6 linked regions of the Homo sapiens genome follow. The gene in region 2 interacts genetically with the main gene of each other region. Each region holds a gene or a part of one and is shown on either strand. Other genes may lie near its edges. The genes, in order: UFSP2, TRPC6, EMC7, PDCL, SERPINB4 and MARCHF5.

Region 1 (3,500 bases), on a different chromosome or scaffold from region 2:
CTTAATAATAAATACATTTTTGAAAAGTCTTTTTACTTACTCTTTATATTTAGTGTTTAATGCACTACAAGTTGACTATTACTGTTTATCTATATAGCATCAAATAGTAAATATAGATCTTATGCTGGAAATGTCAACCTCCCTGGCAGCTGTAACGCCCATCATTGAAAGGGAAAGCGGAGGACACCATTATGTTAATATGACTTTACCTGTCGATGCAGTTATATCTGTTGCTCCAGAAGAAACATGGGGAAAGTAAGTATTTTTATAGTACCACTGCCACATTTGAATGAGGGCCCTTCCCCAAACCCATGTTTGTATATCCTGTAGGTATACCTAAGGTGTGATTTTCTCCTTGTTTATTATTAACCTAAGAGCCATCTATTAATTAAATGGTTATTTGGAGGAAGTAGGGTAGCATGCTAAAACCTGGAGGATTTCCCTTTATCCACAAAGAGCAAATACACAGTTTCTTTTATAATGTATAATTCAGACTTCCTTTAGCAAACCTGGTCCAATCAAGTTTTTTACTATACTAAGGATATATTAGCTCTGTACTTTTCTTTATTGTAGTCACTATAACTTTTGTTAATACACTTATATATTTCCCCCCACAGAGTTCGTAAACTCCTGGTTGATGCAATTCATAATCAACTAACTGACATGGAAAAATGTATTTTGAAATATATGAAAGGAACATCTATTGTGGTCCCTGAACCACTGCACTTTTTATTACCAGGGAAAAAAAATCTTGTAACAATTTCATATCCTTCAGGAATACCAGATGGCCAGCTGCAGGCCTATAGGAAGGTAAAACCAGTTCATCTATTCTTAGAAAAAACAATAATGACTATCATTCATTTTGTATTTAATTATATATTTCCACTAAATGGAAGGTATTTTGTGATTTAACTTAAAAGTGTGGAATTTAGACTATTCATTTTACACATTATTTAATTTCTGTTCTCATGAAACTTTAAGTAGTATTAATGACAAAATGTTATGTTGAACCTATATGTAACATTTTAATTTTAAATGCTCGGTGTGGTTCATATATTCTGTGAAATTTTAATATTTTTCCATAATGAAATATAGAAATGGTGCTTACATGCCTAAAGTTGCTGGTATTAACAGATTTCTATAACTTTCCGATTTGTGAAAGAGACAAGATTACAGTTAGGGAAGGAAAATGATAACTTATGCTAATTCTGAATAGGATTTATGGTAATACTCCACAAGTAAGGTTATTTGGGCTTTATTAGAGGAATTTTGGAGAAAACATGACCAGCATTCAAAGTAATGAGATTTACTCATGACTGGTTTTGGAGTGCATCTTTTTGATATGTGGACTCGCTTAGAACCTATCAAATTAGACCGTGGAGCATCTTCCTAATTTCTGTCCTTAGGGAGAGCGAGAATACCCTGACCCTCTGTATGTGGAGGTGACTTGGTTTGTAGAAGCAATAGCTACAGGAGCTGATCTTTTAAAACCACTGGAGTACAAGATATGATAAAGAACATGTCAAACTTTTTAAAATACCTATTACATGTTTTTATATAGTTGGGAAAATAACACATTTTAAACATATATGTGTATTTGTTTTCCTGCCATATTGGTTGGCTTTAGACCACTAACTTCTACTCTGTAGTTTAATCACTACCACTTACAATATAAAATATTTGTAAGGCACTCGACACAATTTTGCAAAATACTTTGATATAATTATTGTTAATTATAATTTACTCATTTACAAGGCTATTTCAAAACCAGTCTTTAGCCTGGATGTATTTTAACAGACTATGTTGTAATAAATAATTATTTAAAAATTAGTTCTCTTACTCTAACAATTTATATTCATTTTTCTCTGTTCCCTTCCAGTTTCTACCCAGATACAGACGTAAACGAAAATAAATCTTACTTGGTTTTAGTTCAGTTTTCACCATCTTTGATGTTAGTGAATTAAACCATAAGTGTTTGGAAACTTTTATAACCTATATATAATTTTCCATGTTTAATAACATCTTTATTTATTGACTAGGAATCTAAATCACCAACATTTTTTCTTTTTCTGTTGATTCTGATTTATTTTAGGAGTTACATGATCTTTTCAATCTGCCTCACGACAGACCCTATTTCAAAAGGTCTAATGCTTATCACTTTCCAGATGAGCCATACAAAGATGGTTACATTAGAAATCCACATACTTACCTTAATCCACCTAACATGGAGACTGGTATGGTGAGTTTAACTAATTATTTATGGGAGTCACTGGATCAGTAATGTTATTAGTTGTTTTTTGTTGGTACCCAGTAGGAGACTTGATTCATTATGTATTCATTCCTAAAACATGATTTATCACCCATCTCTGTTAACAGACATTGCTTAAGATAGCAGTAATTAAAAATGGTCTAGAAAAGTTAGTAATAGGTAGATATACCACATTTATCTTACTAAAATTCTCTTATTTCTTTAAAGGCTTGTCCCATTTTTTTTCATTCTGAACCTGAGAAATCATGCTAATTAAGGGCATAGTCTACCCAAACCACACTGTAGGATAAATCTTTTTTTGTTTTTTTGAGACAGAGTCTCGCTCTGTCACTCAGGCTGTAGTGCAATGGTGTGATCTCAGCTCACTGCAACCTCCGCCTCCTGGGTTCAAGCAATTCTCCTGCCTCAGTCTCCTGAGCAGCTGGGGTTACAGGCACCTGCCACCACACCTGGCTAATTTTTGTATTTTTAGTAGAGACAGGGTTTCACCATGTTGGCCAGTAGCTAGGGTTACAGGCACCTGCCACCACACCTGGCTAGTTTTTGTATTTTTAGTAGAGACAGGATTTCACCATGTTGGCCAGGCTGGTCGTGAACTCCTGACCTCAAGTGATCCGCCATGTAGGCCTCCCAAAGTGCTGGGATTACAGGCATGATTCACCATGCCCAGCCACTGTAGGATAAGTCTAATGAGGAACTAGACTTATTTTCCATGTAACATATACCCGGTTGCCAGGGATAGATCCTCCCTAAAGGTAGCTCAAATAAGAGTGAATTGGCGGAGGGTGGTGGAAGGGTTACTTTAAGGATACATGGAGGCCAGTGAGAAAGGACCTTATAAGGCATCCAAGATTAGGAATACCAATAGAGCTGGGCCTCTTAGAAACAGCAGCCCTGTGACTAGCAGGTGTCTTCAGTCTCTCTCAAGGACTCCGTGGATACCTTGGTGGCATTGCTATTGCTTTCTGTGTATGCTTGTGATCCTAACTGGCCTGTTCTTAACTTTTACTCTGTCTGCTCCACCTCATACCCTCTGTATCCTCACTGTTTCAGCTTGTGTGTCACTTTTTCCTGTTCTTCCTCAGCTGCCCAGTGTATGCCTCATTCCAACTGCATTTCCTGCTCCTGGCTGCCTGGCTAACTCTGCACCTCTCAGTTCAGATTCCCAAGAGAAAGAAAACTTGGCTATCGTATGGTGGCATTTATTAATACCTTCTGAGCGTCCAGGACT
Region 2 (3,500 bases):
TTTTAAAAAGAAATAAAGTTTGGAAAATAGATATTACACCAAAGAAAAAGGTTGTGGCGGGAGGTGGGGAGGCAGTCATTCTTCAGTCTGGGCTAGGACAAAGGACTAGATTGATTGAGGACGGTCTGCAGAGGGAAAACAAGAACGCTCGCTGCCAGATAGATAATGCTTGGGGCCAGGCAAGGGTCAATCCCCAGGAGACTCCATAAATGAGCTGGAAGAGCAGTTATAGCCAGCCAGGAGTTTTTCCCTTTTTATTAATTCTCTTTGGTAAAGATATAGCCTCGCCTCAGGTGTGCAGAGGGAACTTTAACGGAAGAGCCTCAGGCTAGAGAGCTAAAAGAAGAGTAGTATGCTGGTGGCAGTAGTGATTGGTGAAAGATTCCCTGAAAGATGAGTCTTTGTGACAGGCAGCTGGAATACAAGATATAGGTATCTCTTTTGATATGGACATTCACTCTTCTGCCCAACTTAGCTGATCCAGATGCTATTTCATTAAAGTAGCTGGCATCATTTTATTCCTTATTTGAATAAATATCAAGGAGGAGGAAATCTCTTTGTTGAGGAATAGATTAAATGGTACCTTCTCTCTGCTAGGCACTGTGTTAAGATAGGGGGATGAAGGACAGACCCACTTCTTGTGGCTTACATTCTAGTCAGAGGAAAAGGACGTGTGAACAAATAAATGTAAAAATGTGTAACAGATGTTTCAATGAACATAGTTGCCAAAAACAAGGGAGAGATAACAAGGATATAATAATTTAATATGATGCATAGGCCTGAGTCCATGTTCTTCAATCTTAAACTTCTTTAAGAGACTAGTTATCCTATTGGCAAGTAATATCAGGAAAGATTCTCTAGCCTACAGTCTGAATTTTTCATTCCCTTATTATCAATGTGTTCAATACTAACTTTTTTTGCCTGGAGAAAAGAAAACAATATGTGGGGGATTTTACTTGTGGTCTCTAACATTACATTACCTTTCTTAAACTGGGAATTCAAACTCTGGATCTTATTTTCATAAATGGGGTTCAGGTCACCCAAAACCCTCTTGAAGTCAATAAAAATTTTAAAGGATCTGTGACCCATTTTTTAAAAGTCATTTTTTGTTTTTTTCATGTGAGAGGATATAATTAAGAATCACTTTGAGTTTCCTCTAAGACTGTGATGCAATAAGTCACCTTTTAAAAATATTTAGTACATATCCATCGGAGACCTTATCAGCAATGGAGCACTGACTCCATTAATAACAAGAGAGTAAACCTTTTATGTAATGGAAAAGCCATAGTTCTTACAAGCTATACATTCTTTAACCAAGGTAATATCAAAATATATTATGAGTGCATTTCCACTGTAAATACTTTGAATTTTAAAACTCTCTCATTCAAATCTCTGTTTTCTTTAATTTTTAGTATTTCCTCTTGTCTTTGGTGTTCTGCAATTTAAATGATATGTTTAAATGGGGTTTTTTTTCTGTTTTACAATAATATTGGTATACTTCATAAACATGAAAATTCATTATTTCTGGAAAATCCTTACCCATTATCTATTCAAGTCTTGCCTCTCCCACTTCTATATGTTTTCTTTTCCTGGAACTCTTACCTTCTAGCTCCATTACTCTTAACGATGTTCATACAAAATATTTTTTATGTCTCTGCATTTTGGGTATTATCATCAATTATGTTCTAATCTGCATTTAGCCCTTCCATTAATTTTTTTTAAGAATTGTATTTTTTACTTATAGATGTTCTATTTGTCCTTTTCTTTAAAAATGTCATTTTTTTCTTAAGGTTTGATTTATTCTTTTATATTGTCAACATTTATATGTACTTTTAAAGATTCTTTTTCATGTGGTTGTATTATCTCAACTTTTTAAAAAATCCACTAACTACTGCATGTCTTATATCTACTCACTCATGGTCGATTGAGTCCATGGTCCACTGACTCTCACTCTTGGTCGATTGTTTCCTTGTGTGTTTTGTTATTCATTATAGCAAGCATATCTTTAGCAGGACTTGCTTTCTTCTTGAAAAGCCTAGGCAATCTAGATGCTTGATACTAGTCTTTCATAATGATTTTGTGTTTTACTCTTATAGGAACCTCAGGAGTATTTTCCATGTTGACTATTTCTAGGCTAGTTAGGTAGGGTATAAAAACAAAAACCCCAAAAACGATATTCTCAAGGGGAGTGTTCTTTTCTTCTTACTGTTAAAGTTTCCTGTTCTCACTGTATGCTGGTGGGCATATATTTCTAGCCTACATTTTTATTTAATGGCTTTATGCAGGGCACAGGGGTATCTCAGTTCCAGCTCTCTGCCTCATCTGGCACCAAGAGTTTACCTTCTTTCTGTCTCATATGGACATCAGATTCCAGGCTTCTTCGTCACTGGGACGCATAACTCACAGGGCAACCACATCATCACTTCACAATCTATACTCGCTTTTAATGTCTTTGTTCTTAGCACATGGTAGATTACCCTTTTATTTTTCACAAAATTGGGAGATGTTTTAAAATCATTTAAAATCTTTTATCCAGTACTGCCAGGTGTCTGTAACCATAAATTTTTCAGATTGTCTCAGTCAGCTGAATTGCCAGTGCTTTAGTTTACAGTTTACTGTTTCATTATTCATAATCAATCAATTACTCCTTCCCAAGCAGAAAGTTTAGTTGGACTGTGTTTTCAGATCCTGAGATTTTAGAAATGCTTAACTTTTTTAAATGTCTGGGATTCTTCCCCAAGTTCAGCAGTGATGAACTGTAAACATACCTTTAAAGTTCTAAATAAAGGAAATCTGAAATGCCTCCTGGGACCTTGGCAGGACATGGGCCTTTCTTGCTAATCACCATTACAAATTGATCACAATAGAGAATATTAATTGATTTGCTATTGAAAGTTGAATAAAGAGAAAATCTGAGCCATTTTCTTCTGAACACCATTTCAATTTATTACTATTTTAACTATTAAGGCCTTATTTAACTATTAAGGCCTTATTGCACATAATTGCTCACAAATAAGATAATTTACCATAATTTTCAGTTTTACTACTGAAAACTGAAGCCCCATAAATATAAATAAAAACTGAAGCCCCATTACTACTGAAGCCCCATTACTACTGAAGCCCCATAAATATATGTAAAAAATTTTTCTAAATAAGAAAACTATGAAACAGAAATTTTTGGCAAGAGTCATAGAATTTATTCCACAGAAATGACAACTTACAAAGACTTGGGATCTTATAAGGGAAAATCTCAATGATTTGAGAAATGGCAATATTCATATCTAAAATGTACTAGTGATTGCCACTTTCAGAAATGATACACCTCCCACTATGAAATTGTATAAATCACAAGTCAAAAGCATATGGAAGAGTTGATTTCTACTCTACCAGAGGGAGTAATTTTCTTTAGCTCTTTCTCATACATCATAGGTGTGAAGTACTTTTGTTTCTTGGTTAAAATTTTTCTGTTAGTTGATTATTCAACTAGAAAAACTTAAAAT
Region 3 (3,500 bases), on a different chromosome or scaffold from region 2:
GGACTTTATAGACACCTCACTTCATAGTTGTGCCACCCACCTATCTTTTTGCAGAGTTACAGTGTTATTTAACACAAATAGTTTGCAAATGGAACTATCTATTCCCTTTTTTTTTTTTTTTAATCTATAGTCTGGCAATGGGATTGGTGATCTGATGGCAAGCTAACTGCTCTTTTCAGGTGACTGTGGTTCTTGGAAAACTGACCTACTTTAGCAGACCAGTTTTGAAAAATGACCTAGAAGCATCAAGCACTGGAGCACTAGATACACTTCCACGGAATTTCAGAAATGAGAACATGGAAGGTGAATAAGCTCTGGAGTTTCACTGCTGACTTCTTCCATCCAGTCTCCCCCCGCCTCTTTATCTCTGATTACAGATTCTAGGTACTAATTTATTCCTCCCTAGGGGATATACAGCCTCTGAAAACAGATCATGTGTGATCTAAATAGCTATCAGCAAGGATTATGACCAAAACTTAGATAAATTCTTTTATTTTTATTTTTATTTTTTGAGACACGGTCTCGCTCTGTTCCCCGGGCTGAAGTGTGGTGGTGCAATCTTGGCTCACTGCAACCTCCACCCCCTCTGGTTCAAGCAGTTCTCCTGCCTCAGCCTCCCAAGTAGCTGGGATTACAGGTCCCCGCCACCACACCCAGCTAACTTTTTATATTTTTGATAGAGATGAGGTTTCACCATGTTGGCCAGGCTGGTCTCGAACTCCTGACCTTGTGATCCGCCCACCTCAGCCTCCCAAAGTGCTGGGATTACAGGCGTGAGCCACCGCGCCTGGCCTACTTAGACAAATTCTAAGACAGCAATTCAATTTTTAAAAACAGCAAAAGAAAAGGTCGATTTGTTTCTAAAAACTGTTTTCTTGATGATAGTCAACAATAATTTATTGTATATTTTAAAATCACAATCAAAGAGTGGAATTGGTATGTTCCTAACATTTATAAAAACATGATAAATGCTTAAGGTGAGGGATATCCCAATTACCCTGATGTGATTAATACACATCGTATGCCTATATCAAAACATCATATGTACTTCATAAATGTACATCTATTAGGCACCTATAATAATTAAAAATAAAAACAAATTTTTAAAGAATGCATGCTATTAGTGTTTTATTATTAGTGAGTATCATAACATCGGTTCATAATGCCAACTACTTAAATTACCATAGAATAACTTTTCTCTTCACTACACATGTTAAAAAAAGAGGAAGAAATCCTTACTTGTGCTATCAATAGGGGCTGGTTAATAAATGATGGCACATTCATCAATGGACTAATAATATGCAGGCAGTATGGCTGGGTGCGGTGGCTCACGCCTGTAATCCCAGCACTTTAGGAGGCCGAGGCGGGCAGATCACCTGAGGTCAGGAGTTCAAGACCAGCCTGGCCAAGATGGAGAAACTCTGTCACTACTAAAAATACAAAATTAGCCGGGCGTGGTGGCACATGCCTGTAATCCCAGCTACTTGGGAGGCTGAGGCATGAGAATCGCTTGAACCTGGGAGGCAGAGGTTGTGGTGAGCCGAGATCGCACCATTGCACTCCAGCCTGGCCAACAAGAGCGAAACCCCGTCTAAAAAAAGCCAAAACAAACCACAAACAAAAAATACGCAGGTAGTATGAAGAATGAGACAGCTCCAGGTATGACTGACTTACTGAGTATTCTTATTCTATTTGAAATGTAAAACATGCTATAAATATTTATCCAATTTCTATTACACATTTCAATAATCAAATCTACAGTGCAATTCTCATTATATTCTCTTCATTATGTATTCCCAAAGCCACTATTCTTCTGAAATCTGCAAATTATTCACAATTATCCTTTCATCCACCAATCTGACCTCAGCTTTCTATCTCACAGAGGTTTGAAGTTTCCACTGCCTAGAAGCAAATTAGGTATTAGTAAAGTGCTTTATTTTAGCCTGATACATACCATTGGGTTCATTAGAAAGTCTGTCCAGCCCCACGATTCCCTTTTAATAAAGTAAGAAGGTGGACCTGAAGATTTCATTTGGAGAGGATAGGGCAGTCTGACAACCTCTGATGTTTTGATGTAATTCACATATCTTGCTCTGATAAAGCAACATGGGGAAAGCAACAGTAATTCCATTAAAAACATTACTGGTTAAAAGAACTGCTTATATTATATTAGCAATGCCTTATACACACTTTCAGCTTTTTCCAAAATGCTTTAAAACCTAAACTTTTGATCTTGAAAATCTGACCAAAATAGCTTTATCTACATGTCTAAAATATGCAGCAAAACACAGAGAAAAAAACGCTAGACTTGGAATCTTCTAGCTGCAGCTCTGTCATTACCTAGACCTGTGGGATTAAATCAGTTCCCTAACTTCTATTTATGTCAAAAGTTCTTTTAGAATCCTTCTGGTGCTAAAGTTATTTGATTATATTTAGTAATGAATTTACTTCATTATACCATACAAAAATACTGGATTTTATTTTTTTGATGGTCTAAGAAATGCATTATTGGATGTAACCAATTTTTAAGGCTATATTGCCAGAAAATGTTATAATGCAAGAAAGCACTGCAGCAGTGCTATAGGTAACGCTACATTTTTCACCAAAGACGCACTAATTTTAATCAAAATTCTCATCCATGTTTACATAGGATCCATTTTACTTTTTGAAAACTGCCTCTCCTATTTCACTGTCATTGCTGTGTTGGGAAATTTTTTTTCTGATCTGTCTCCCACTTCATCAGACTTCTGCTCAGTTTCTTAATGCATCCATTTAGTTGTACATTTCAATGCCTATATTCATTGTAGAGATTCTATTCTATTCTTTTTTCAAATATCTATAGCCTATTTTGGTATATCATTTCTATGGCAGTCTTTTATTTCCTTAAGTACTTTAAATATACATTAAATTATTTTACAGTCTATATCTAATAATTCTACTATTTAAAGTTCTTAGAGGTCTGATTTATTTGCTGACTCAATGTAGACTGTTTTCTTGGGTTCTTTGTAAGTTTAGTAGACTTTATTTACCTTTATTTAAGTAAAGAGATACAAAGGGTATCTCCTTCCAGAGAGATTATGCATTTGTTACTGCCAGGAATTTGGGAATTATAAACAGAAACTATTTTGTTCATTGCTTAGCTTGGAAGTTCCTGGATTATGCAGAAAGTAATAAATTCATACCCCAACTTGTAATGAGTGTAGGAGCGTAACTATCAGTTTTCAGGGGAGACTTTTTCCCCCAAAGGCCAGCATCAGACTTTTCCCTCCGAAAATCCAGGGCCTTCTGCATTTTAGTACCAAAGGTCAAAGGGAGGACCAAATTTTAGATCTAATTCTGACTCCAAGCAAGCCCATGGCTTGCCTCCTCCCTGCACATTGCTAATTAAATCTAAGCCTTCTGGGTTAGAGAATATCAAAATCTCCAGGTGGGGAAGTGCTTTATAGTTTATCCCCTAGGGATTTCCTTTGTTGTGGGGGGAGCTATGCATTTATTAATAA
Region 4 (3,500 bases), on a different chromosome or scaffold from region 2:
ACTCTGTTTGTTGACTAAATACTTTCAAGACTCTTTTACAGTTAGTCAATTCCTGAAAAGCCAGGAAAATCAAAATTGTGAATTTTAAGGCTAATATTTAATTCCAGATTACATTTCCCCTGACCCTAGAATATACATTTTTAAAGTTAAAAAAAGGAAAAAAACGCAAATGATAATTATTATAAATACATAGAAAAAAAGGCTATAAAAATGACTAGAAATATGACAAAAGGGATTAATTTTGGTTGGTGGAATTATATGGCTTTTAAGTCTTAACAGTGTTTATTACATTTTCTACAATGAACATCTATCACTTTTGTAATTTAAAAAAAGTATTTGCTATCTTTCTTTTTAAGAGACAACCATCAAGCAAATTATATCACATCTATACGATGGAATATTAATAGACATTTTTAAAAAGTTGTAGAATATTTAATAATATAAAAAAAGGTCTGATATATTATTAGCTGACCATACTATAGAACAGTATGTTCAGAATGATCCCATCGTTTTGTTTAAAAACAAACAAAATATCCATGTATACACAGAAAACACCTTGGCAGGAAACAGACCAAAATATTAATAGTGTTTTATTCTAGGTAGTAGGATTAGAGATTATTTTAATTTTCTTATTTTTGCTTCTGTTTTGGTCAGTTTTCCTCTACTGAATATGAATTACTTTTCCAATATGAAAAAAAAAAAAAGTTTTAAAAAAAATCTAGGTTAAACAAAAAGTTACCTTGTTAAACAAAAAGTTACCTTGTTAAACAAAAAAGAGACAAAGACAAGCAGGGGCATCTTACTGAAAGAACTTCCTTTACAAAGATTTCCAGCCCCACTCCAGCTCTAATGTTTAAATCCATAAACTACTTGTCTTCTAACATCACCAGGTCAGTAAGCATCAACCCTTCCTGCTGTTCCAGACTTAGTCATGCTGGAGGAAGACATGAAATCCAGCAGCAGAGGCCACCCCTCAGGACTGGGTGCGGTGGCTCACCCCTTTAAACAAGACCCTGGTGGGGAAAAAAAAAATCTAACCACCGTCTAAAGCTATGGAACTGATTACAAGTAAATATAATTTACAATCATTTGATTAAGAAAATGCACTATTTACGTTGCAAATAACACAATACCTACAGAATTATACTCTCAGACTTGGCAGAGACCTCTAAGATCATCTGAAGACAATTTCCAAGACCCTGTCTTTAGGATGCTTTGTAAATATTGACTGGAAACAATAACAGAGATGTCACACCACAGAATCTTAAGTAAACAGTTCAAAAGCCTGGCTTCCTGTTTATACAACTGTAAGTCACCTTATTGCTAGCTACAAGGTTATTCAGCATTCTGATTTAATCTAAGAATTTCTTTATTTTATGCATAATAAAAGGGACTACAAAGAACAGCTGAAAAGCCAGAAGACAAAGGAACAAAAATAAACAATGACGTGTATTCCAACCCAAACAATGAGAAATCTATGCAACTAGACTATCAGTTCAATCTATTTCCAGGTCGCTATCCTCACTGTGACACGTGGCAGAGTTACGCACAGATGTCAGCACCAAGACTTCCTTTTCTGGGAGTAATCCAAATTCCTGGAGAAAAGCTTCAAGGTCCACAGCAAAGAAATCATCCCCCAGCTGGTCAGTAACACGAACAAAATTGCCGATCAATTCACCCCCCTTATAGATCAGCAGGGCAGGAAGGGCATTCCTGGTGAACTGACTGCTGGCGCCAATAACTGAGCTCTTCACCTTGCAGAACTTGACAGCTGGGTACTCTGCGGCAAGGCAGATCATGCAACCATTCATGGCTTCGGTCCCTGGAATGCCATCCTCATAAATATGAACCATGATGACAATGCTTTTCTGTTCTTTATCAATCATGTCTAAAAACCCTTCTCCACTGGAGATCTCAAAAACCTGCTTGAATTGGGGCCCCTTGTGAAGCTGCTGCCGCATCTCTTCCATTCGCTGCTTCCGGTACTGCTGCAGAAACTCTTCATCATCTTGGTCCTCATTCATTATGGCAAACTCCTTCAGAGTCATCTGCAGGCGGACCAGCAAGTGAGCATAAATATGAAAACTGAACACTCGTGATAACAGTTAATATGGGCCGGGCGCGGTGGCTCACGCCTGTAATCCTAGCACTTTGGGAGGCTGAGACGAGCGGATCACTTGAGGTCAGGAGTTCAAGACCAGCCTGGCCAACATGGCAAAGCCTCATCTCTCCTTAAAAAAAAAAAAAAAAAAAAAAGTTAGCAGGGCATGGTGGTGTGCACCTGTGGTCCCAGCTACACTGGAGGCTGAGGCACAACAAGAATCACTTGAACCTGGGAGGCAGAGGTTGCAGTTAGCCAAGATCACACCAGTGCACTCCAGCCTGGGAGACAGGGTGATACCCTGTCTCCAAAAAAATAAAAAGAAATAAAACAGTTAACATGTACTACATGCTGATAATATATAAGGCACCATGCTAAGTACTTTACATGCATTATATCTCACTGAATTCCATAACTCCATCGGGAAGGGACTTTTAATAGCCCCACTTTATAAATGAGGTTCCAAAACTTGACATTATTTGAACAAGTTCACCCAGTAAGCATAAGACCAGTACTCAAACTAGATTTTAAAAACCCATGTTTTTAACTACAATATCACATTTCCTCTCAATCCAAATAGGCAGCATCATATAATCTCACTTCATGAGCTTATTTCTTTTTGTCAGTCTTGACAATATTTTATCTACTTTTTTTTTGAAAGATAACAAGACATTACAGAATTTTAGAAAAAACTCTCATAACCCCTGCCCCACACCATCCCCAAACACACACACACACACAGAGTCATATGGACTCTAAAAATTATTTTTATTACCAGTCATACTAAAATAGTTTTGCTTTTATAGCAGCAGCTGTGGGTGTACCAATTAAGCCATAACCTGCTTTCGAGACTTAGCACGATTATAAGTATTTCCTCATGTTTCCAAATATTTTTATGAAATTATATATAATGTGTCACTTTGCTTAATCACTTCCCTAATTCTGCCAGACAGTTTCCAATTCTGTTCTATTGCAGATAAATCAGCAGGACGGGAACAGCCTCTCACAAGACTGATCCATGTGATGATATGATGTTGCCTCATTCTGGCCTCTCACCTCAGTATCAGGAAGCAGCTGTGAGCAGCAGGCACAATGCCCAAGAGACAGCTTAAGCTACGAAAGCATCTTACCCCTGCCCCGGTGCAGCAAGACATCCTCGCTCCTCTCATAAAACCTAACTCTGCCTAATGTTGCATAGATTAGGGAACAGGGAGTGGGAGATCACACTAGATCAGAACACGTTGTTACTTTATCATAACCAGCAACATTCTGAGTTCACTATTTTACTTATTGCCAATTTTCCTCCCATCTTGCAGCCCTCCACTTCAACTCAGTCTACCAGAGTGGCTTCTTCTGACCTATTGAAGTCTTTGGCTAAGTGTAATGTCCTAAAATCAGC
Region 5 (3,947 bases), on a different chromosome or scaffold from region 2:
GTAAAATTAGAAAGCTGCCATTTAAAATGGCCCGTCTGTTTCAATTGCTCTTCTCAGTGTCAGCCTGTTAACTCAATGTGTTAGTCTGTTTTCATGCTGCTGATAAAAACATACCTGAGACTGGCAAGAAAAAGAGGTTTAATTGGGCTTAGAGTTCCACGTGATTGGGGAGGCCTCAGAATCACAGTAGGAGGCAAAAGTTATTCTTACATGGTGGCTGCAAGAGAAGATGAGGAAGAAGCAAAAGAAGAAACCCCTGATAAACCCATCGGATCTCCTGAGGCTTATTAACTATCATGAGAATAGCACAAGAAAGACCGGCCCCCATGATTCAATTACCTCTACCTGGGTCCCTCCAATAACATGTGGAAATTCTGGTAGATACAATTCAAGTTGAGATTTGGGTGGGAACACAGCCAAACCATATCACTCAGCAAGGCAGATAACTTTCTCACTGAGCCTATGCAACAGAAAACCATCTGGGATGGTTGTAAGGGGCACAGGAAGTGACTGGTAGGATCACTGCCAAAGCTGAGCACTCAGGAGAAGGCAATAGAATCCTATTCTCCATAGTATGCTATAAGATACTGAAGTACACTTCTTCACTATCTCTTTGGACTTAGAATTAGCACTACATTCCTTGTTATACAGAAAAATTACTAAGGAAATTCATAGGATGACAAAAACTTTCAGAACTGAAAAACAGGAAATGTAAGCTTTTTAGTTCTTTGGTATTCGAAGTATGCCTAAAAGACAATGCAAAATCCAAGAAAAGAATGGTGGGGTTTTTGTTTGTTTGTTTTTGTTTTTGTTTTACAGCTGGAGTAGAATACAAAGGGATGGAGTTGAAACAAATGAGAGGAAATTGGAATTCTAAACTTATTCTCATTGGCATTAGAAAGGCACCTACATGTATTTCACATGAGCCGGTGACTGCTGACTTGCATTCTTATTTTTTCCCTATAGATTAAAAAGGAGGTACAATGGTAGAACTGTAATCCTGTCCTTTGTCATAAATTTTCATATTCATAAAGGTGAGTGTTAGCCCGCTTGTGAAATCTGAAGTTGAGTAACTTCAAATACTAACCACAGAGGGAAAGGCAGCAAGAGGAGAGGCATAAATTTAGGATCTCACCCTTCATTCCACAGACACACACAGCCTCTCTGCCCACCTCTGCTTCCTCTAGGAACACAGGTAAGAGCTTCAAGCCTCTCCAGCTTAATAACATGAATTATTTTTGAGAATAATAATGATACTGTGTTCTATATCATGCATCTCCTGCATTCTGTCTGATTATATTTTACTTATTCTGCCAGAGCAAAATTAAAATACCTATTTCATCTGATTTGTCCTTTATCTAAATTGCTTAGTTCCAAGTAAACCAAGGCACTTTTAGGAACACAGAGGGAGAGTGCCTTGCAGCCAGAGAGTCTTGAAGGAGATGTCAGGGACGCATCTTAACAGCTGGTTGGATGTGATCCACAGAGGTCTCCTGTTAGCATTCATTGTAAAGCCATCCTACCTAGCTCTAGTGTAACCAGCAATGAAAGAAAGATAAAGAGGGTCGATTACTTATTTACAATAGTCTTTAAAAACGTAGTTTTGTAAGCCTTCTAATTAGGACATTAATATATTTAATATATGCACATTGTAGAAAGATTGAAGCGTTAAAAATAAGAGAAAAACTTTAAATGTCAAAATCTCACAACCCAGATATATCATTTCTTTAAGAAAATTGTACTACAAAATACCATTCCATTTATTAAAGTCATTCTGACAGGAATCTGATGCTTTTCCAGGAGTTCCAGATCACATCGAGTTCACCATGAATTCACTCAGTGAAGCCAACACCAAGTTCATGTTCGATCTGTTCCAACAGTTCAGAAAATCAAAAGAGAACAACATCTTCTATTCCCCTATCAGCATCACATCAGCATTAGGGATGGTCCTCTTAGGAGCCAAAGACAACACTGCACAACAAATTAGCAAGGTAGCTATCAGCATCATTACGTTGTCCTGTTGCAGTTTTTCTCTGGTTCCGTCGGCTAGCACGCAGATGGTAATAGATGTGGTGGTCTGATGGGTAGCACAGGGGGCTGTGCAGGAATTCCCATAACTGTGAGACCACTGACTTAAACAGATCTTTTGAGTAAAGTTTTCTTGTCCCGCTTCATGTCTCTTCCAGGTTCTTCACTTTGATCAAGTCACAGAGAACACCACAGAAAAAGCTGCAACATATCATGTGAGTCACAGAGCACTATGGTTCAGCTTTAGATCCCTGAACAGGTCATAGTTTAAACCTGGAACTTCACAAAAACTAAGAAAAGGCCAGTTTTAGGGAAAATCTTGGACACAAAGATTGAGACATACAGAGTGGGTTGGCATTTCATGGCACATAATTATTATTCCTCATTTCTGCGTTACTAAAAGACAGTCAGCACTGTACCTCAGAGCATAGGTCTGGATCAGGATAGGCTGGGTTCAGACTCCAGCTTTGCTCTTCACAAATGATGAATAAGAGCAGGACACAACTGCTCGGAGTCCCAGTGACCTCATCCCAGAAAACTAAGGGTAAGAAAAAATCTGACTCAATACATGCAAATACATGCAAATGTTTACAACAGTGCCTTGCCCATAAAAGTCATAATAAATGTTATTATTATTATAAAGTAGCTATAATTATACTAATCATAATAATGTGAAAATAATTTAATTTTCATTGAGTCATTAATGAGATTCAGAGGAATAAGCACAAGTCCAAGTATATTTTGGAAAATGATTGCTATGGAATATATTGGTTTAGAGCCTTAATAGTGCAAAATGCTTTGCTGGAAGGTAGAAAGTTCTAGATTTAAACAGGCTTAGGTTCAAAACTTGGCACTTCTAATTTATGTCTCTATAAACAGGGTTTTTTTCCCCATTCTCTGAGCTTTCTTGTGTTCATCTGAATTGAACTAAAGACTTAGAGTTACCCATGTAAAGTCCTTAGCCATGGACCTGGCATACACTCTTCTTACGTGCAGAGAATGACCATCATGAGGAAAGAGCCACAGATCAGTCAATGTGTCCTACAAGATAATAGCACCAACAGGTATAACAGGGCTTCCTGGCATAATCTATTTAAAATATCCAACCTTCAACATACTCGTATCCTTGATGACTGTTAGAAGTGAAATATGGTCCTTGCCCATAAGGAGCTGAGAGTTTAACTGGGAAGCTAAACCTAACCCTTTAAACCAACAAGGAGAAAATCTACTGGTAGACAGCGCTGCATCTTTAGTTCAGAAGAGAAAAGATTGCAGTACGTTAGAGCAAGAAGAATTTTCTGGAAGAAGTCAAATATAAGGTGGATTTTGAAGGGTATTTGAGGTGAAATACACCAATTATCAGGGAATAACATCAAAGGTCCTCAATGAGACTACCAGCATTTAGGGACTGATCTAACAGACTTAGCATGGGTTTAGTATTTACATTGATACAGCAATTGAATGATCTCCCTTTTTGATGTTTGAAGGTTGATAGGTCAGGAAATGTTCATCACCAGTTTCAAAAGCTTCTGACTGAATTCAACAAATCCACTGATGCATATGAGCTGAAGATCGCCAACAAGCTCTTCGGAGAAAAGACGTATCAATTTTTACAGGTAATTTCACCTGGCCTACCCACATTTCATTTGCATCCTGATGTCTGTGTCTCTGAGTGGCCAAATGGAAGAAAGCAAGGCAGATGAGCCTGGCCGACTCAGGTGGAGAGCATTTACTCAGAGTGCATTAGCTCCATTTCCACAACTCTCCCCCACTGGAGTGTCCCAGACCCCAACGATACATCACTGAAGTGTGGATTTAGGGATAATCTTGTGATAAAAGAGGAGGTTGTGTAATAGAGTGAGTAAGAGTAATAAGTAATAAGATACCATCGATAAACTGGCACTGACTCAGTCACATAC
Region 6 (4,298 bases), on a different chromosome or scaffold from region 2:
CATATGCATCCAGGACTGTTCAATTCTATGCCCTTTCTCCTCTTAGCATCTGTCTCTCAGATGGGGTAATGAAATGACTTAAAACCAATATAATCCCCAAATGGATGCAAGGAAAAGACCTTTAACTCATTCTAGAGGATTCTAATCTTCTACTTCAGAAATTTAAGTTCTTAATATCTCAGAAGCAGTTTGTGTTCCCAACTCACTCGAATACACTTTAAGACATCATGGCATGAGACCACCCACAGATCTTGTCTAGTTGCTTAATTATACTCAGTGCAAGAGGCTTTGAGGGTGGGTGAGTGGGGATGTAGTTTAGTCATTAGAACATACTTAGAATATAGGCTAGCCTGTTTACAAAATTAGGACAAATTCTTCCATACAGTTTTTTTTTTAAATTCAGATTACTTTTACTTACAAAAACTAGTATCTCGATAACTGTGATTAAAAAAAATTATGTATGTACAGAATGTTTTGAGATTTAACAAAGTACACCTAGAGAACATAAAAATTCTTTATTTAACCTAATCCAGCCAGTATTGAGATAGTTTGCTATATTAAAAACAAGACGTTTAAAAAAATTACAGCAAAGTTAGCAAGGCAGTGACTAATTAAGTCACTAAGTTTAATTTTATATTCTTCACAGTCATTTCATAATCATGTAATGGTAAACAATATTTTCAGCCACTTTGGAGATAAGTTAACTTTTGAAAAGAATTCTAGTAGTCGTCATTGAATTTTATAAAAGAGGTTTAAAACATTAAAGTTTCCAGAAATAACACAGTAAAGAAATATGAAAATAAACTGGAAAATAAAATATACCCACCCATCCGAAAAATCTACATCATCTCTTTCATTTGTCCCCAATGCCTTTCTTTTACCTCTCCATTTACTTTTCCTAGAGTGCAAACAGATTACTTAGCAATTAAGAAACAACTACTGCTTTGTAGGGGCGATTTTGAGCCTAAGTGCTGCTGTTCCTTTAATCTCTCAGTTAATCCTAGAAATAGTCTTCTGAGATAAACATTATTTGCATTTCAAAGATTAAGAAAACTGCAGTTGAGAGAAAGTCAAATCCTTTAGCCAAAATCATACATACAGTTATTGAAAGCTGAACTATGATTTGAACCCAGGTCTATCCAACTTTAAGTCTGCCTATGCTCTTTTGTTGCTTCATGGTCAGGCAGGTCACCTTCCTGGGAAGACTGGCATGTGGTATTTCTCGAGCTAATAATAATAAGGCTCTTTAGGTTTAAAAGTGTTCAATTCGGGGCTAGAGGCCACTCTGGTCCTCAGGCACTTGCAGTTCCCTCCCCGCAACCCTAAAAAAACCCTCCCTCCTGCCCCAAAAGGATTAGAGTTGTTCCCCGGCCTTCATGAGCCCTAATACCTATAAAACCAAGCAGCTACTCCCTGTCAAGGGCATTAATGTAGTAAATGGGGAACTGTGTGTTTGCATAACTTTAGTAAAGGCTGCCTAAAAACTGTTCTATACAACAAAATTTTGCAAGATATGTGTCCATTTAATGTATCTTTCACATTGAAAACAAAAGCCAATATATTTTATAATTACAGCCTATAATCTAAGTTTTTAAAATATATAACCATAGATGTTATATTTCCCCTTCAGAACTGTAGTAGTGTTCTTAATAAGGCTCACTGTTAGTCAAATCTTCATCTCCAAATAATACAAATTTGAATGTTCAACAGTCATTCAAATAAACATCATATAACTCAAAATTAAGACATTCATACTATAGAAACCAGTCTTTAATTACTAAAGTTAACATATATTATTGCAAACTAACATAGCTCAATCTATATTTGCTACACTCCTAAAGTGGCCGCTTATCAGTAAGGGGAAACATTTATTATTGACATGCATTACTGTGAACAAGAAAATAAATAGGGTTTTGAAAATATCTCTTAAAAATTTAATTTTAATTAACAAAAATAACCATTCAGGTTGCTGAACATTAAAATGGCCAATCTATTGAAAATGGCTTCAATAATTGCTTTTAAAAATGAATACAAAACTAAACAGTGATTAAGGTGCTAGCCTCATCAATAGGACAATTAAAATCTAAAAACATTAGTGTTGATTTTCTATAATAAACTTAAGCCAAAAACAATGACCTCAATATTTACTTAAGACTTCTTGTTTTCATACTTTTCTCCTCATTAATATAAAAACAAAGAGCTCAAGGCCTCACCTTGGTTTATTCACTGCTGGTTTTCTATGTGCTGAAACTAGACTGTCAACTCTGTAAGAGCTTGGACCAAGTCTGTCTTGTTCACCACTATGTCCTACAGCACTCTGCACAGTGCCTGGGAAATAGGAGGTGATCAACGAATATCTCAATAACTGAATCAATGCAAGAGGAGAGTAAAATAACTTTATTTTTATTTTTGCAAATCATCCTCTGCTCAAACTACTATAAACTGGCAGCTGTAATTTCTAGAAATATGGGTTGAAAAAACTCCCAGAGATGGAAGGACCTGATGAAACACTGAAACACACAAATACACACACACACACACACACACACACACACACACACACGACTGCATGAGTCAAAATTACTTCATGAAGTATGAGATGTCAACATTATGTAAATAAAATTTAATATTGAAAAAGTGATCTGGAAGCCCTGTGAATTTTTACCCTACACATTTTGGAGGACATCACATGGGTTAAAGAAAACACCACAAAATCTCATTTGTTCAGATAATCATTTGAATGTTTACATACATTTTTGGTTATTTATTTATAACTAATTTAATTTACATTTCCTCATATTAACATATCCTCTTATTTAGTATGTAATCAAATTATGTCAGTGAGAAAAATCCTCATAGTACCTTGAGTTGCTGATTCTGAGAAAACACTAAACATGAACATGTACAAAAGAGGCATTTGAATAAAACAGCATGTGCATTTTTTTAATATTTGCACAGTTTGATCTTTGCATTTCTGTCTGGAGAAAATATGAACAAAACCCAGGTTTACCATGCTAAGATAATGGTTCATATGACTGCCATAAAAGTAGTACATACAAACAATGAAAACAAATCACATCCTTAGGTTCCATGATTACCGAGATGATTTCCCCTGCCCTAAGTGCTTTATTATATTTCTTAAAAAATATAGGAGCAGCAGCTTATCACAAGTCTCCACAAGTGCATTAATGATGGAATCAAAACAACACAACAGATTCATAAGGATGAGAGAACTGCAGAACAACCAGAAGTCAGTTTTATGCTTCTTCTTGTTCTGGATAATTCAGAATTTTGCGGTGTGCCTGTCGTAAATATTGCTGCTGTTTGAAGTAAACTTTAAATGCTCCTTTTATGGCAACAAACGCAATTCCACCCTAAAATAAAAAGGAAAATTAGCTTTTTATAATGCAGATTTAGAGAAACAGAGTAATAAAAATAATTTTATTTAGATCACAAAAGACGTAGGCTTTGATGCTAAACTAATTCAGATGACTGCAAATGAAACAGTTTTCTTTTTCTACTAGGAGATGAGATAGGGAGAGAGACAGACTATACGCTGTTACTACAGGTAACAGGGGACACAGATGCCTTCTCCATTATCCTTTCTGACTAGTCTTTCTTCCATGTAGTTCTACATATACTCTGATATACAAAGAAGAATGCTAGGGCACTATGTGCAGACTGCCACTGTTGGGAGCAAGAAAGGCCAAAGGGATCGTGACCAACTCAGCATTCCACTGGAGGCTATATGACCAAACAGCAAACTGTTTATCATGAATGCAGGATGTGAGTAAACTCACACTGAGCCTGCCACCAAAGGGTTTGCTGGGGGCCATCACTCCCTGGTGCAGGGCTCCTTGAACTTATCTACTGGGAAATCTAGCGCCTACTGTTCAAATGATGCAGTCTCGCAAGCCTGCTGTGAACCAAACTGCCAAATGGACTGACAATTACCCGACAATCACCCCTGCTTCTCACTATCTCTTTTGCCTAATAAATACAGAGGGCTGTGTAAAGCTCAGGGCCCTTGTCCACTAGAGGCAAGGTGCCCCCTGACCCCTTCTTCCAAATATACTCTCTTGTCTTTGTCTTTTATTCCCACGTTTGCCCCCTTTGTTCAGTCCTCCAAGGTCCGTGCAGGTTACATGCCACCAGAGGGGAGAAGTGGGAGTAACAATAATAGCAAACAACATGAGTGCTTACTATGTGCTAGTACTTATACAATCCTCACAATAATCCTGATTATTACCATCACCATACTACAGGAACAAAAAGTCCAGACATTTGATTTAGATTTC

Evidence for each region.
Region 1: changes in TRPC6 (region 2) and UFSP2 together harm fitness less than expected from each alone (positive genetic interaction), as found in Homo sapiens cells (one large-scale study listed by BioGRID).
Region 3: changes in TRPC6 (region 2) and EMC7 together harm fitness less than expected from each alone (positive genetic interaction), as found in Homo sapiens cells (one large-scale study listed by BioGRID).
Region 4: changes in TRPC6 (region 2) and PDCL together harm fitness less than expected from each alone (positive genetic interaction), as found in Homo sapiens cells (one large-scale study listed by BioGRID).
Region 5: changes in TRPC6 (region 2) and SERPINB4 together harm fitness less than expected from each alone (positive genetic interaction), as found in Homo sapiens cells (one large-scale study listed by BioGRID).
Region 6: changes in TRPC6 (region 2) and MARCHF5 together harm fitness less than expected from each alone (positive genetic interaction), as found in Homo sapiens cells (one large-scale study listed by BioGRID).

The regions. Positions count from the first base shown.
Region 1 is NC_000004.12:185,412,465-185,415,964, reverse strand, and holds part of UFSP2 (ufm1-specific protease 2), read left to right. Parts: intron 1-97; coding exon 98-255; intron 256-617; coding exon 618-810; intron 811-2,092; coding exon 2,093-2,239; intron 2,240-3,500. UniProt on the Homo sapiens protein: Thiol-dependent isopeptidase that specifically cleaves UFM1, a ubiquitin-like modifier protein, from conjugated proteins, such as CD274/PD-L1, CYB5R3, DDRGK1, MRE11, RPL26/uL24, TRIP4 and RPL26/uL24.
Region 2 is NC_000011.10:101,577,508-101,581,007, forward strand, and holds part of TRPC6 (short transient receptor potential channel 6), read right to left. Parts: intron 1-3,500. UniProt on the Homo sapiens protein: Forms a receptor-activated non-selective calcium permeant cation channel. Probably is operated by a phosphatidylinositol second messenger system activated by receptor tyrosine kinases or G-protein coupled receptors.
Region 3 is NC_000015.10:34,088,363-34,091,862, forward strand, and holds part of EMC7 (endoplasmic reticulum membrane protein complex subunit 7 precursor), read right to left. Parts: intron 2,094-3,500; coding exon 1,955-2,093; intron 1-1,954. UniProt on the Homo sapiens protein: Part of the endoplasmic reticulum membrane protein complex (EMC) that enables the energy-independent insertion into endoplasmic reticulum membranes of newly synthesized membrane proteins.
Region 4 is NC_000009.12:122,818,589-122,822,088, forward strand, and holds part of PDCL (phosducin-like protein), read right to left. Parts: intron 2,049-3,500; coding exon 1,497-2,048; 3' UTR 1-1,496. UniProt on the Homo sapiens protein: Acts as a positive regulator of hedgehog signaling and regulates ciliary function.
Region 5 is NC_000018.10:63,641,457-63,645,403, reverse strand, and holds the start of SERPINB4 (serpin B4), read left to right. Parts: upstream 1-1,147; 5' UTR 1,148-1,195; intron 1,196-1,781; exon of another isoform or gene 1,782-1,800; 5' UTR 1,801-1,826; coding exon 1,827-1,991; intron 1,992-2,186; coding exon 2,187-2,243; intron 2,244-3,515; coding exon 3,516-3,644; intron 3,645-3,947. UniProt on the Homo sapiens protein: May act as a protease inhibitor to modulate the host immune response against tumor cells.
Region 6 is NC_000010.11:92,350,167-92,354,464, reverse strand, and holds the end of MARCHF5 (E3 ubiquitin-protein ligase MARCHF5), read right to left. Parts: intron 3,375-4,298; coding exon 3,258-3,374; 3' UTR 501-3,257; downstream 1-500. UniProt on the Homo sapiens protein: Mitochondrial E3 ubiquitin-protein ligase that plays a crucial role in the control of mitochondrial morphology by acting as a positive regulator of mitochondrial fission and as an important regulator of immune response.